Linked DNA regions of Homo sapiens: region 1 is linked to region 2. The links come from fine-mapping of genetic effects on gene expression. Tissue or cell type: esophagus muscle. Region 2 holds a variant in brackets; the other region holds the start of a gene. All regions are shown on one strand. Distances are between the middles of the regions.

Region 1 (2,500 bases), 440 kb after region 2:
GTCTAAGTGACACAAATTTGGGCAGAAGTAATTATTTGGCCAAGCCGGGAGGCAGGAAGCTTAAATACCGCCTCTGTAGGAAGTGCGGGGGATCCGAAGCAAACACCCCAAAGTTTGTTTGTGAGTGGAGGCGCGGAGGCGCCCGGAGCCACGCCGAAGCTCACCTGGTCAGCGCACAGAGCCGGGTAGGAGTCGGGTCTAGCCCTAGTTTGCTCCTGAGCGCTTCGTTCCTCTCAGGCTACTGCGTTTAAATCAATACTGGGTGGCAAACGATACCCATTCTTTGGGCTCTGAAGTTTGGAATTCATGGGTTCTGCGGCACAAGAAAGTTTCTTCACAGGTTATTTCCCTGTCCGAGGCTGTCGCTTAGCTCATCTCCTCCCGGTGCGGCCCTGGGGTGTCCACCAAGCCGCCGGGCAGATCGCTGCCCCGTGCTGCGGCATCTTGATGCCCAGGACCCCGAGGCTGTGGGGCAGCCCCTCCTACCTGGGACAAGCGGCCAGAACTCCTTTTCCCACAGGGAAGAACACTCCAAGCCCCCGGAAGAGTGCGCATCCTAAGGAGATGTCTCCCAACGCCTAGACAAAGACAGCGCTGGGAAAAGTTGGACCAACTGGCACCCCCGCAAGGCGAACAGAGCAGTCCCCTCGGCCTTCGTGGCCGAGCCGGCTACGCGCTCTCGGAGTCGCGGCCAACTTTTCCCGCGAGCTTCTGAGCAACTTGCCGCAAGTTGGGGCGAGGGGGCAGAGCAGGGGTCAAGGGCGCGCGGAGGGACTGATCTCGCTCCTGTCGGTTTCCTCGTACCTCCCCGCGTACCTGCTGATGTATCCGTCCCCGTCGCCGTCGCACGTCTGGAAGAGGCGCCGCATCCTCTCCTCCTCGCCGGTGCTGGACGTGTCGCTGCTGCTGCTGCTGCTGCCGCTGCCGCCGCCGCCGCCGCCGCTGCTGGAGCTCCCCGCAGCCGCTGCCGCCGCGGCCGCCATCATGCGCCCGCTCCCTACTTGGGAGGAGGAGTACGCGCGACCGCAGCTGGAATCCGCGCGGCGCGCAAGCTGCCTGCAGCCCCGAACTTGCCTGACAACGGAGCATGCCCAGTGGCCGCCGGGGCGCTCCGGGCGAGGGATTCCACCTCTCCGGGTTTTGCCCGGACTGGGAAGATGGGCGCTCTGGAATCGCCCGAGGAGGCACCTCAGGGAAGAGGGAGGAGGGGAAGGTGGCTGGAAGAGTCAGGGAGCTAAGGGTGGCAACGGGAACACAAGAGGAGGCAGAATACACTGGAAGCCCCCGGGAAGGGTGTCAGCATTGTGCATCCGGCAACGACGCGGGCCCGGGACACTTGGGGACGCTTCAGGCAGAGGGCAGGTGTACTCCCGGCAGACCTTCTCCGACCGCCCGGAGTCATGGCTTCCTTTTCCAGAGAAGCTATATAAACACTCTCCTTCTGCAAACTCAAAACGGTGCTTGTAATCCCACTCTCCAGGATTGTTCCGGGTTCTGTACCCATAGCCACCAATGAGAACCGGAATGACTGGCCTTTTTATGAAATTTTGACACCTGTCAAGAAACCTGGCCCTCGCAGCCCTCATCTTGGCTCCCACTCTGTACTGGGAAGAGTCTGCACGCTGTGTGGCATTGTGTACGTTGGGTCAATTTCTGGAAACGGCTCACTCTACTGGCCAGGCATCACTAGAATTTCCCCCAACAGCTTTAATAATGCCAAGAGCGAACATAATAGATGGTCTCATTTGATCCACACTACAGACCTGGAAGATGCCTCTTTTATTATCAATCCTACGACTTAGGAAGTATTAATAGATAAGTACCTCATAGAGTTATCTTACATATAAAAGGAGAGCAGACATAATGCAGTTAGGACAATGTCTGACACCTAGTAAGTGCTCAACAACTGTTAGCTCTCATTGTTCCCAATTTACAGGTAAGAAAACTGAGGTACCAAGACCTGCTCAAGGTTCCAGGTTTAGTAAGTGTTAGGGCAGAGGCAAGCCCGGGCAGCCTAACTCCAGAGCAGGAGCCTTTAAACACTGCACTATTCCCCCATAGCCAAAGGGAAACCACAGTGAAGCAATTTGTGGTTTCGTGAATGACTCATTATTCTGTCCTGGATTTTCTGCCAGAGAGGCGTGTGAAGTTCTCTGGTGGTTTTAAAATATGTCCACAGATTCTTTGGTGCACCCCTCATCAAGAGGTGGAGTCTGTTGCTTCCCCTAAACCTGGATTGGACTTGTGACTGCCTTGACTTCTGAGACTAGGTTAGAAAAGGCAATGCAGATTGCACTTGGCTCTCTCCCTTGGGACACTTACCTTTGAAGCCTTGAGCTGCCTGAAAAGAAGTTTGGCTACCCTGAAGCTGGAGAAACCATGCAGAAAGACCATGTAAAGAAAAAAGGAGATGACCAAAGAGCTACAGCTGTTCTAGCCCTGGATCTTAGAATCTTCCCAGACTAGGTGCCAGACATGAGTGAGAGATGATGCTAGCTCT
Region 2 (2,500 bases):
TAGAGCTGGGCCTTCAACTCGGCCATCTCCTCCTACAGACAAAGGAGCACAGAGCACATGAGGCATGCCCTATCTGAGAGCAGGCCTGGCTGCTGCCAAGTGGGTGGGTGGGGGGTCCCCGGCTATGACCCACAGGCCCATGGTAGAGTTCTCACTTTGAAGTTGGCAGTAGGATGAGTGGGAGGAGACGTGGCACCTGTCACCACACTTCTAAAGGAATGACGTATGGACAAGGCCATGCACTTTGTCAGTCTATGGACTAGACCTGAGACAGAAGGGTAGAAGTTACAGGCAAGATTGTGGTTCAATATAGGGAAAACCTTTCTAACAAATAGAGCCCCCACTCAGGCACATGGGCCTTGATGGAAACCCATTCTCTGGTCTGCAGAGGCTGAGCTGCACCTGCCAGAGGCTGTAAAGTCACCTATCCATGGAAGGCCTCTTCTGGCCAAGCCCCTTCCAATTCCCATTTTGGTTTCCATGGCACCAACCACATGTTTAATCACACCCACGGCACCTCTGTTGCCCTGTAGCTGGGCCAGGCATGCGGCGAATGCCTGCAGCAGCATCAACCTCCAGCTCTTGCCTACTTCTCAGGGCCCAAATGAAATCAATAGAAACAGCATCCTTCACAGGTGACTGCTCATCAGACAACTTCTAAAAGTATCCTAAGAACTCAAATGAGAGCGATGAGTGGAGAATACGAAGTGAATCCAAAATAGGACAGTGCCATCCTGGGACCAGGAGCCAGTAACAATGACAGCCAGTAGCCTTTACTGAGCACGTGGCACTGTGCTAAGTGTTCACATGACGTGGCTCATTTCATCTTCCCAACCTGGGTTAGGTATTGCAACTATCTCCATTGACAGATGGGAAACTGAGGCACACAGAAGGAAATCCCCCTGCTTATGGCTACTGGGTAAGCTGTGGAGCCACAGATTGCAGCCAAGCTGTCTGGTTCAGAGCTATACTGCCTCCCTCCCTTTCAAGGTGAGCCCACGCATGACTCTTGTCCCCGCACTTCTGCTGGAGAGTAACTCCACCAGCCCATGGCCACCAGGTCCAGCCTTCCCAGCCCACCGTGAGATGGACTCACCTGAGGTTAGTTCAGATTCTCACAACCCCCGAAGTCACCCTTCTGAGGTAATAAACCACAGGCCTGGTGCACTCTCCTGGGTAAGTTGGACTAGGGGGTAGATGTTTTCACTCTCAAATGTGGGGAAATGGGTAGAGGACACCCCTCGAAAGGGAC[A/G]TTAGTCAATATGCTCAGTAAACTACTCAGAACATGCCAACCTTCTTTACCCTAAATATCAGACATAAAAGCCAGAATGAAAGGTGTGCCACGCCCAGAGCCTTCGGATCTTTTGCCATTGGAAGCAGGATTCTGAAGGTTCTGGCAACACTGCATACTGAGCTAATGTGATGGTCGCTTCCAGAACAAACATATAAGTGCAGGCTTGAAAGAGGGAAAGAGAAACCTATGGGTGCCAGAAATGAAGAGGGAACTCTGCCAGAGAGAACGGCAAGGAGGGCAGGTGCTGGCCAGCAAGGCGTCAGACTGTCCTCAGGCCCTCCACCCGGGGGCTTAACATTACCCAAGGCCAGGGCCGTGGCCTCTGAGGCAGAGAGCCACAGCTCAGACCCCTACGGGAGCAGGATTCTCATCAGGCTGCCCATAAGACACTAGGAAACTTCCTTTCTGGAGATGTGACAAGTAAACTTGTCATCTCTCAGGCTCTGTGTGGGAAAAGAAAGAAAAATCTCTTTCCAGGAATTAAACCTCAAGCTTGTGTCATGTGTAGGTGTGGTACAGGAATCCAGAGCCAAGAACTTAATAACAACTAGTCCTAAACCTCAGAAACTGATGAGTCCCAACAGATCTAAACATAGAACCACTCTGTAGGGACATCTGCAACCCAGGATCCTCAGGGCCCCACGGAAGACAGTTTCCACAGAGGATGAGCTGGTGCTTGCATTCTCTCCCCCTACCCCCACCACCGAGGAAATGAGAATGAATCAGCACTGACGAAGAATGAGCGGATGCAAAAAGTAAGAGTCAGCATTTACAAGAAGCAGAAATAACAATGTGCAAAACTAGAAAATAAAGATTTAAAACAAAGTGATACAGGAGTCATAATGAAGGGATAAGATGTTCAAAAAGGAAGAGAAGGCCAGGCCTGGTGCCTCACATCTGTAATCCCAGCACTTTGGGAGGTTGACCTGGGTGGATGACTTGAGCCCAGGAGTTTGAGACTGGCCTGGGCAACAAAGTGAGACCCTGTTTCTACAAAAAAATAAACTTAAAAAGTCAGCTGGGTAGGGCAGTGCATTCCTGTAGTCCCGGCTACTCGGGAGGCTGAGGCAGGAGGATCACTTCCAGCCCAAGGGCGAGGCTATAGTGAGCCATGACTGTGTCACTGCACTCCAGCCTGGGTAACACAGTGAGACCCTGTTTCAAAACAACAAACAAACAAACAAACAACAACAAAAAGAAGAATGG

Which allele goes with the higher level. Alleles are on the strand shown, and positions count from the first base shown. SD is a standard deviation of normalised expression in the study named.
As copies of G replace A in region 2, the expression in esophagus muscle of the gene that starts at base 1,025 in region 1 goes up (small effect, 0.26 SD a copy in GTEx).

Evidence for each region. PIP is the estimated chance that this variant, and not a neighbour inherited with it, causes the effect.
Region 1: it holds the start of MCC, and the variant in region 2 is fine-mapped to the expression of MCC in esophagus muscle (GTEx, PIP 0.94).

What each region holds. Positions count from the first base shown.
Region 1 is chr5:113,487,429-113,489,928 of GRCh38, forward strand. MCC (MCC regulator of Wnt signaling pathway) reads right to left here and starts at 1,025. Exons shown (of 19, transcript NM_001085377.2): 1 at 817-1,025. The coding sequence starts at 986. RefSeq lists an enhancer at 924-1,218.
Region 2 is chr5:113,049,268-113,051,767 of GRCh38, forward strand. MCC (MCC regulator of Wnt signaling pathway) reads right to left here. Exons shown (of 19, transcript NM_001085377.2): 16 at 1-32. Among named protein-coding and RNA genes, the nearest start is that of DCP2, 74 kb to the left of the region's middle. The variant A/G (reference allele first, on the strand shown) is at 1,253.